2 separate regions of the Homo sapiens genome follow, and region 1 is linked to region 2. The links come from fine-mapping of genetic effects on gene expression. A gene starts in region 2. The other region holds a variant in brackets. All regions are shown on one strand. Distances are from middle to middle.

Region 1 (5,367 bases), 24 kb after region 2:
CAAGGTTCTTCTCATGCTTGCATCCAGTCACCTGATTCTAGCATCAAGCTGGTCACATCCCTGGGGCCACCATCCTCTCTATGACCCGTCACCACCCCACCCGTACCCACCACAAGCTATCGTGGCATTAGTTGGACGCAGCCATTTCCCATGCCCTAAGTCAACATGGCTGGAGTTAATTTCTTCCACCCTGAACACATATTTGGGCTTTCCCCTAGCCAATCAGGAAGTGGCTCACAGGGAGGACCCAAGAGGCAGAACCTCTCCTCCGCCCCCTTTCCTCCCCAGAGCCCTGGGCTCCTAAAAGAGCATGGCTGGGAAAAGTGGGGACGGAGGTCATGGCTGATGCCTGAAGACACCTGGGGCTGTTACCCTTCCAGAGGCCAGGGCTGGCTTCCTCTTCCTATTCTATCTGTTGGTCCTCAGCAAGCCCAGGAAGCAGCCTCATCAAGTGTCTTAGGAAGCATAGAACTCCTGAATTTCCTTCTCCTAAGCTTTTGTTTCTGAACATTACAGGGAGAAAATGACCATGCCCCTGGGTGTTCCTCCTACTGCTTCTGCTTGATTTTATCAATAAGGATCTGGTCAGCTGAGACTGAGAAGAGGCAAGAAACTAGCACCTCTGCCATTTCCTTAGGGCCTGCAGTCCTAATGTACCTGGCACGGGAGGGGTTTCTGAGTCAGGGAAGTTTGTGGAGAAAGTGACATGAGCTGAATTTTGCTAATTGATAGGACGAGTCTAGGGATCTTAAACCCAAATGCCTTTAGGGTCCAGGCAAGTCACAGATATAAGTGATGACGCTCAGTGTAAGACAGTAGGGAGTAGTGTGGGCTGTAGAAAAATGTAGCATATACACCCCCCACCCCGCCCCCACAACAAGAGGACACAGATACTTCCCAACTCCAGCAATGACTATGGTTCACTGTTACCAGATCTTCTGACTGTTTAGAAGGAGCCAGAAATGAGGATATTTTATAACGACTAGTCTCTTGAGTTTTAAACAGTAGCCTCTGATTTTAAAAAGGTCGAACATGCAAGCCCCTGAACACATGTTTAGGCTAGATATGACCCAGGGCTGGCAGTGTATAAACTCTGAAGTCAGCAAATGAAAAATAGAACAAGGGATTCCAGAGAGAGGGCACGATATTTAAAGACACAGGCTTGTGAACTGAGTCACGCATTCCAGAAACTGCCCCTTGGTAGGAGGTGGATGTGTGGAAAAGAAGATGAGGCTGAAGGGGCAGTTCAGAAAGGGTCTCTGTGCCATGCTAAGGGATCTGAACCTCATTCTGAAAGCTGCAGGGGTCGGTAAGAGAGACTGAAGAGTTTAAAGGAGAGAGAGGCATGTGGCACACTGCATTTCGGAAAGCTGTGTCTGTGTAGGGAGGGCTGGCAGATCAGCAGTCTCTGCACATCGCAGATAAGACGGAGGCACAGGAGAGATTCATGGCAGAGGGATGAGGGCACTGGCACTCACCCTCAGGTGGACGAGCTCAAATCTGGAGGCTGGGGGACACTTGAAGGGGGGGTGGGGGTGTGGTGAGGGAGAGTGGGGAGTGTGGACATCACCCTGGTTCTGAATGAACTAGGGGTGGCTGCCATTCCCTGAGAGGACACCGGGAGAGACAGGTGGAAGGGGTGGAGGTGGGTGGGAGGTGTGTGGAGGCAGCCAGGTTGTGCTGTGACTGGAGCCGGGAGTGAGGTGTCCAGAGGCAGATCAGACACCGAGGGACAATGGAAGCAGGGTTTGGAAAACCGGCGCGTGCAAAGGGCACACTCACACCAACCCCAGCATCCTGAGGGGCTGGGAAAGAGAAGGTCAAAGAAAACCCGGAGAAAGTGTTGCCAGAGGATGAAGGAGGCGGGAAGTCTATGGCCTAAGGGGTACTTCAGGGTCATGCTCAGGTCACTGACAGAGCAGAGAGAACGTGCCGTTGGACCCGCTCCAGGAGACATGGGGACATACTGCAAGGGTCTCCCTGCCAGGGTCCCGTCGGGATTCAGTCCTGCACAGCCCCGTGGATTGTGGGCAGGCCTTGCCCACCTCCTGGCCATGTGATCTTCGGATGTGCCTCTTGTGCTGAAGAAAAAAAAATGCACATGTCCACTCCCCAGCAGGCCCCGCTCTGAACGGGCCCCCAGCACTCCATCCATGAAAGCTGCAGGGGCAACAGCAGGTGCCTGTTCTACCACGCTAGCACGCTCCACTTTCTCTCCTCCACTGATTCTTATTTCTCCCTAATGGACTGCACTCTTCAAAACCAACTTACCCAAGGACAGCTTTTCCAAGGGGACTTGTCAAACTCCACAGGCAGCAACTGGTTTGTTCCTTTCCAAAGGGCAGTAGCCATCACCTTCAACAATACTGCAACTAACATCCACCTCTGTCCAGTCCTTCTTATTTTAATCCTACAGCAGGAACCCCAATTGACAGAGGAGGACATCAAAACTGAGAGAGGTCTAGGGCTGCAAAACTAGAACCCATCAGGAACCAGAACTCCAGTCCCCTCTGCCGGTGGTCCCATCCATCCTCCTTCCATCTGACACCAAGGCTTCCTGAGTGGTAACCACCATGGCTGCTGGAGCAGAGGAAGTGGCCGTTGCCTTAGAACCAGGCAGGTGGGGAAGGGGACACATCAAATACCCAGAAGAAAAGTGACTTCAAAGTCCTCCCCAAATTGAGTGCCCTCCAGAAATTCTCTCACGAAGAGGCTGCAGCTGACATTCACAGGGATGTTGTGTCTGAATGCGGGTACATCAGGAAGGGAACAAAAGAGAGGGAAGAAAGCCTGGTTGAAGGCAGGGGTCTTTCAAGTCCCCTCGAGGCAGACTCAAGAGCAAAGCATGGCACACTGGATGGGCGTTCTGCTTCTCTTTAAAGAGCATGGATTTATCCATACCATGTGACATGAATGAAATGAGGAGTTTTCAGGGCTGCCAACCTCTTGGTTAAGGTTCTGTGTAGTATATTTCTCCTACAATAGAAAAGGAAAAATGACATCTGAGGTTAACAATGTATCTGCAGTGCAAGGCCCAGTGACTGTCAATAATGGACGCTGA[G/A]TAACTAAGCAATGGCGGATTGCATGAATTTTCATATAAAACTGCTCCTATACATCGCTTTGAGTGTCTGGGTCACGCCTTATCCTTATAGTGTAATGTGAGCGGAGAGTCTAGCTTGAATATTTTCCCACTTAGCTAACTTGCCATCTCACAACTATTTGCTGAGTAACCCTTGCTTCCTCTTAATTCTCTGGGGCCTCCTCGACATATATTTAGGCAGGAGGTGAAGGGCAGGACGCAGGGGGCCACTTTCTGCAGGCATAGGAGGTTGGGCTTCATGCAGACCACAATCAAATCCTTGCTCTGCTGCTTTGCTTGCTGGGTGGCCCTGGGCAAATCACTTAACCTTTTTGAGCCTGGGTGTCCTATTTCCAAAACCAAGTCAGAAATAAGAAAGTTACTATGGGCCTGGCATGGTGGCTCACGCCTATAATCCCAGCAGTTTGGGAGGCTGAGCCCAGAAGATCACTTGAGCCCAGGAGATCAACACCAACCTGAGCAACATGGCAAAACCCAAACTCTACTAAAAATAACAAACAAAAAAAAAATATGGGGCATGGTGGCACACGCCTGTAGTCTCAGCTACTTGGGAGGCTGAGGTGGGAGAATCAGCTGAGCCCGGGAAGTCGAGGCTATGGTGAGCCATGATCACGCCACTGCACTCTAGTCTGGGCGACAGGAGTGAGACCCTCCCTCAAAAAAAAAAAAAAAAAAAAAGGCTTCGGTAGAGTGCCTGGCACATGGAGGGGCTCAAGGGAATGAAGTTCTTAATATTTTTAATTGATGTCTTGGAATCTGCATCCATGTCTAAGGAAGAGACAGGCAAGAGAATTTTTGTCCTGTCTGGGACAAGAATGATCATTTGGGATGGTGGAGGCATCACTCTTACAGAGTGAACTTTGATTGAGGGGGAGAGAAGCTGTTTAGTTTGAAAATATATATGTATATATTCAAACGGTATAGAAAAACTGTAGAAAGTAATGCTGAACAAAATCTTGTTGGGTGTAAATACAGAGAAAAATCACAATTTTTAATTGTGGCACCTCTGCCAGGGGAACAGTAGGATCAAGGAGGAATTTTATGCCATTTTAAATGAAGTCGTAAAGTGTTGTGAGGGGATGACGTAAAATAAAGGATTTTCTGGGCCAGAAGGCTCTTAAAGATGCCCTGGGGACTCTAACCCATCCCTTCATTTGGGATCCTTTGTCATGTCTCTTAGCCGCAGCATGTTTCCTCCAGGGGGTGCCCAAGGGGACATTTGCCTCCCCACTCCCAGAGAGAAGGTCTCTCCGGGGCCACGTGTGAGCCAGGCAGAAGGTGGGAACCAGACCCAGGGAGCCCCAGTTCACCTCTCCAGGAAGGAGGGAGTGGCCACCCTCATCCAACACCGATGCGGTTCCAGCCATCTGGGGGCTGAAGAATGTCATTGCAAGGTGGCCATATCAGAGCTCTCTTGGTACAGGGACAGGAACACAAACCAGGCAGGCTCAGAAGAAGCAGGGGGTGGAGTGAGGAAACAGAGACAACTAGTGTAGACGGACCTGAGAAAGTTTGCAAAGAGCTGGCGAGAGAGAAATCGCTGAGGGGAATATGGACTTCTCTGAATCCTGTTTTCTACAGGAGAGGGTCATCTTCGGTGATTTGGGCTCATCTCTCCATTGAGTGGTCCTCTCTAGAACACACTGGGTGTGCGGGAAATACACCCTCCCACAGCAACGCAGAGATGAGCAGGACCCGCATCCTGTGCCTGGCCATGGTCTGGGGAGGGGGTGCTGAAGCCGAACGCATAGAGATAATGGTGGCTGAATATAGGGGGCACCCTTCTGCAGGTATGTCCAGGACGCCGAGGCAGGGTGAGAGGCCCAGGCTCGTTGTATAGTAGGGAGCTCCAAAATTGGGATGGGGGAACCAGCAAAGGCTCTATAGCCATGAGCACCATAGAGAAGTAGTCCTCTCTGCCCACAACTTTTCACTAGGTCCAGTTCAACCAACAGCATACATATATGTATTGCCCTGGGTTTTAATTGCTTTGGTTTCTGGGATTTTGAGTGTTAAGGATTTCAGAATGCAGCATTATCTTAGAAGTCTGTTTTTTGTTGTTGCTTTGTTTGTTTCTTTGAGATAGAGTCTCGCTCTGTCGCCAGGCTGGAGTGCAGTGGCGCGATCTCGGCTCACTGCAACCTCCGCCTCCTGAGTTCAAGCGATTCTCCTGCCTCAGCCTCCGGAGTAGCTAGGATTACAGGCGTGCACCACCACGCCCAGCTAATTTTTTGTATTTTGATTAGAGACGGGGTTTCACCATGTTG
Region 2 (5,367 bases):
TTTAATTTGCCACCACTTCCTCATTTTAACCCAAACATTCAATGACTTAGTCTACAGAAGTGATGGCTGTAGGACCTTCGGGCTTCTTGGAAAATCCAAGGCAGGAAAAGAGACTTGCTTAAACAGAGGGGTAAGCAGGAGGGGAGGGGTCAGGGTGGCCAAGCCAAGCACATGCCCATGTGGCAGTTCACATCACCAGTCTGACATTCTCCACCAATCTCATCAGTCTTCCTCTTTCCAGATTCCAGGAACAAACTCATTTTTGCAGAGGCAGCAACGGGTGGTGTATGTACACAATCACTTGTTAAAGGAGCTGGCCCAACGAGACCCAAACCTAAGTGATCACAGATAGCAGGTATTCTATAGTCAACGATCACAAGGGTCCCCCATCACCCTCCAAGAAAAATCCCACTTCAGTGACTCTCATCGCAAGGACAGCGTCTATGTGAGGAAGCTAGCTCTACTTCCGAGCAGGTATACTTGAGAGATATTGCTCTGTGGGTCTGATTACAGGGATCTCTCTATATGGAATCGAACCATTCAACAAAAGCTTCCACTGTTTCCTGTCCACTCATATGACTCTGGTCTGGTGGGTGCAAAGAAGGAAGACTGAGCCTGGGATGAGAACATGGGCCACCTAACAGGAAACGGAAATAGATTCTGCTGTAATCGTGGGTCACCTAACAGGAAATGGAAATAGACTCTGTTGTAATTGTGCTTGCAGCAATGAGGTTGACCCGACCTGGTGAATTTAGTACCACGGCAACACTTCCATGATGTTCTGCATGGTAAGAGTGCAGTAGGTAGAGAAGCAGAGAAGCAGAGAACAGAGGAGAGAAAGGTCAGTTTCTTCTTGCTCTTTTGGGGGATCTTATTAATCAATTATAAGTGAGCCAGGAGACCTTAGGTCTACTGCAGCTCAAATCCCCTATCATAATTAGACACCTGAATGTCTGTCTCCCTTGTGAACAGTGAGCCACTAGAGGGCAGGAAACCCGAGGTGTCTCTCTCCACTTGGTGTCTCTAGCTCCTAGCACAGAGCCTGGTACAAGGTAGGTTAAATATTGCTGCACGTTGGAGTGAGTGGAGGAGCGATTCAAATACAGAGCAGCATACCAGGCGCATCCTGTACTTTCCTCTCCCTATTCAGGTATCCCAACCATTCCCTTCAGAAAAACAAGGCAAAATGATGACAAAAACCACTCCACACCTCCTAAACCACCCTTCAAGCAAGACAAAGGGAAAGATTTTGGCATTTTGAAAACTTGAAATAAGGATGGTTAGACCCCGTGCCAGCCACACTGATGGGAAACTCTCCTTTGACGTCTCATCCCTGCCTCTAACAGACAGGGAGAGTGACGTCCAACATTGTTCTCCACATCAGAAAAACCTCACCCCAAGAAAAATACATGGTATTTTCGAAGTGCTTACTGTAAAAGGAGCAGGGTGCGCTGACTTCGCCAAGGAATGGGAAGGAAATGAAGCGCTGAGGTGGGAATTAGTACACGCTTCCTCTGGGGAAAAGACATCTGCTCCTGGCACTCCTCAAAGGAGGTGAGGCAGAGCTCTCCCTTGACGCTGTGCTGCTTCCCTAATCCATTCTCCAGGCTGGGTGATGGGACCTCTTCCTGCAGGGGAGAGCCTGCCCTGGCTCCCAGGGTCAACAAGGGCAGCAGCCCCCGGCTTGGAAGCCTCCCTCCTGCCCCTCCTTACACACGAAGGGGCAGAAGGGCTCTGGGCACAAGCAGTACTTTGGTAGAAAATCAGAAGGCCCTCTTACATCCCCGGGGGCGCCATGAAGGGACTTGGCTGCTGCCAGCCCCTCGCCAAACTCCTCTGAGTGGTCCAGGGGATAAGGCCGACACGCCCCTCCCATTCACTGGGGTGTGGTTTCCAGCACTTAGGACATTCCATGTAGCTTCTCCAACAGGACTCCTCCTCCCCACACTCAAACCCAAAGGACCCTTTCATAAACCAGATGATCATTTCTGGAAAGTTACATTTCTTAATTTCAGGAATTGTTCCAATTCGTGCAAAGAAAATAAAAGGTAATTATCTAATTCCAGTAAAACTTAATGGGGCCCTTCCCACCCCTGGCCAATGGTTGGTGTGAAATGTAATTTGACTTAAACTGTCTAAGGCTGTGAAAGTGTACAATATTCGGAAGGGTGGGGGGCATTACCCCTTGTGGGAGCCATATTTTTCTAGAAGGCATTTTGATCAAGACAGGCCTCCCGCGGTTATTGATCTTAGGGTCATTGAGAGTCCAAGAACTGGGGAGATGAAGGCCACCCGGCGTCAGCACCGCGAGGGCGGAGGGAAGGCGGGCGCTGAGTCTCCCATTGGGGTTCTAGCCGAGGGTTCCAGCCAGGACTGCGTGATCTGGGGGCAGCTCGGAGAGCTCTCCCGACCCAGTATCGGGTCTATAAATGGAGATAAAGATCAGCACCTGGAGGGAGTGGTTTCTCGAGGGCTGAGAGCCTCGCCCACAAACTGTAGTCAGCATCTTCACTGAAGTTGGCCTGTCTTGGATATTTCTTCTCTCCTCCCCTTCCCCCACCTCCCCTCCTAATTCATCAACTGCTGAAACATCTGCCTGGCTGAAACCGCCTTCTCGCCGCGCGCTGGGGGCTGTCCCCAGGTGTTGGTCTTTGTGTCGAGAAAACTTTGCGAGGAGGCGAGGGAGCTGGACAAAGAGCGGGCGAGGGAGGGCGTTTGCCAGCCTGAGGGGTGCGCCGGGCGGTGCGCGCACTTCCCTGGGCTCAGCTCCGTACCCGGTCGCTCGCGGTGGCCAGAGCCCAGTCTCTCTAGGCCAGGAGTGGCGTCCGGCTGCATCCCCGCGCCCTCGGGAGCTGAATAAAGCCAGGCGGGAGAAGCAAAGGCTAGCGCCTGGACGCTGGAGTTGGTGGGAGGAGGCGAGCAGAGGCGCGGAGCAAAGCTGTCAAACTGCGCGCGGAGCCGGGCGCGGGGCGGGGGAAGGGAGAGGAGGGAGGGAGGGGCAGGCGGGAGCCGGGAGGGAGCGAGCGGGCTCGCCGCGCCTGAGCAACCCCTGCCTGTCGCTGCCGCTGCCGCTGCCGCTGCCGCCGCCGGCCCGGACTCGTCCGGAGCGCAGGGTGTCTGCCCAGCTGCGCGCGGCGCGCGGAGGCTCCGGCGTCCGCCGCTGCGCCCTCCGGCCCCTGCTCCTCGCGCCGGCCCGCGTGGGTCCCGGCGGGCGCGAACCCACCATGCAGCTGCAGTTCCGGAGCTGGATGCTGGCCGCGCTCACGCTGCTCGTGGTCTTCCTCATCTTCGCAGACATCTCAGAGATCGAAGAAGAAATCGGGTAAATAGCTGCTCCCAGGCCCGTGCCACGAGCCCTGGCGGGATCTCTCCCTCCTTCTGTACTCTCCACCCTCCGACCCCCTTTGTGTGCGCCGCGCCCCGCTGTAGCTCCGCTGGAGAGATGGGGACGGTTTGGCAGAAGGTGGCGGCGACAGGGGCCCGGGACGGTTTGGGGAGAGGAGGGTGGGGGCGCGGCTGCTGTGGGGTGTCCCCGGGCGGGGTTCACGGGAAGCCCCCAGCTGGCCCGCGTCGGGAAGCGGACTCGCCCACCCTGCCCCCCTGCCTGGCGTGTCCAAGCGCAGTGTCGCCGGGGTCGAGGGAGGGCGCCGGGGAGTGTCTCGGGCGGGCGGAGGGGCCGAGAGTGGAGGGAGGCAGGAGTTTCTTTGTCTCCAGCACGGCCGCTTTCTCGCCTTGGCAAAGTGGGCAGGGGGCGCGCAGGGATCTCTGAGCTGGGGGAGGGGTTCCTGGGGCCGGAGCGGAGGGCGGGGTTCTGCATGGGCTACTGGGAAGCGGAATGTCCCCTGCACACACAGACAGGCACACGCGCCTCCCGCCGGCCCGGGAGCCCGGCGTAGGAGCTGGCACCACTAGAGAAGGGCTCGCATAGCTGGACTGAGACCCCCCGCCCTCGCCTGGCTTTGGACGTTCAGCCAAGCCACGGCAACCCCGGCGACCCTGGGTTCCTGTGCGCTCGCAGCGCGGAGACGGAGACATTTCGGGAAAGTCTGTACCGCCGCCCGGTGGGCTTCTGGGCCCTCAGGCGGGCGATCTGGCGCTTTTTTTCTCCCGACCTCGCCAGAGGTAGGGTGGGACCGCGAGCCCGGATCCTCCCGGCTCCGGACTTCCTGGAGTGCGCACTTGAGGCGCGGGACGCACCGGCTGTGTGTCCCAGGGGCTGAGACTCGCGCCCCGCCCCGCAGCCTTCGGCTCGCCGGGCCGGGCCCCTCTCCGGAACCTCCAAAGGGCGGTAGACGACAGGTGGGGAGGCAGCCGGGGTTCTGAGGAGGCCCGAGGAGAGCTTCCTGGCCCTGGGCAAGGGGAAGGTGAGGTCTCAAAGAGGGCAGAAGGTCTCTTCTTCTGTGGGATTTGTGCTCTGCCAGGCGCTCTTCTCGAGTCCCGCGCCGCGTGCGCCCCTCCTTTGTCCCATTTGTTACTTCATTTGTTATCTGTGCTAGTTGAGGGTCCGCCACACTGTCAGTCCCTCAAATGGGAGATGCCAGTCCTGGGCCCAGGCGGGATGCCGAGGCCCCAAGGACAAAAACTTGTGACAAGTGCCGCTTCCTGCTCTCATTTTCTCCCTGCCCCTGCCCATCTCCCTGGAATTCCTTCTGTGAACTCCGCTGGGCTTCCAGAACCCCTCTCCCTGCCTCTTTCTCCTCTCATTCTCGGTTTCCCCAAGAGCTCTGAAAACTTTCACAAATGCTGCGCAGTTAATACACAACGTGCCACCAATTCCCACGCAGAGATAAACATGCTACTTTTCATAGCTGCTCGCCTCAGAAACGTGGATTGGAAAGGAAATCGGGCAAGTCACGTCTTGGGGTAATGGAAGATGCGGTGAGGAGGGCCTTCCTCTAGGCTCTCCGGCTTCTGATTCCGGATGTGGGCACTGCCCGGCTCAGATCACTTGCTGACCTTTGCCCATGTGAGAGGGAAGGCCCGGCGCTGCCCATTGTCCTGTTATAAAAACATAAGTGCTGTGCTTATCCAGGCACCCCTAGGTCAGCCATTCACTGAATTCTTACCAAATACCTTCCACATGCTGGGAACTTTTAATTTTTAAAATGCAATCAGGAGATCACTTTGCACATAATGTTGCACTTTCTTGCCAAATGCACGGTGAAGCCTACGCTCCCCACATCAGGTTGTTCCCATATATGTACGCACCCCGGGGACTTGTCTCACTTGAGTGCTCCCTGCTTCTTTTTATCCTGTCTCTGCTGGGCCAATCCTAGGAAAAAACGGTCAAACAAGTACGATGTGTCACCTCCTGTGGCATCTTCCTTCCCTCTCTTGCCTCTCGTCCCAGGCTGACCACTGGCTTGA

Which allele goes with the higher level. Alleles are on the strand shown, and positions count from the first base shown. SD is a standard deviation of normalised expression in the study named.
In carriers of allele G in region 1, the expression in subcutaneous fat of the gene that starts at base 3,041 in region 2 tends to be lower than with A alone (small effect, 0.31 SD a copy in GTEx).

The links. PIP is the estimated chance that this variant, and not a neighbour inherited with it, causes the effect.
Region 1: its variant is the best candidate, but not a certain one, in a credible set for the expression of ST8SIA2 in subcutaneous fat (GTEx, PIP 0.59).

Annotation. Positions count from the first base shown.
Region 1 is chr15:92,414,706-92,420,072 of GRCh38, forward strand. All of the region lies in intron 1 of ST8SIA2 (ST8 alpha-N-acetyl-neuraminide alpha-2,8-sialyltransferase 2), which reads left to right. It also overlaps the pseudogene LOC124903615. Among named protein-coding and RNA genes, the nearest start is that of ST8SIA2, 24 kb to the left of the region's middle. The variant G/A (reference allele first, on the strand shown) is at 3,062.
Region 2 is chr15:92,390,841-92,396,207 of GRCh38, forward strand. ST8SIA2 (ST8 alpha-N-acetyl-neuraminide alpha-2,8-sialyltransferase 2) reads left to right here and starts at 3,041. Exons shown (of 6, transcript NM_006011.4): 1 at 3,041-3,322. The coding sequence starts at 3,225.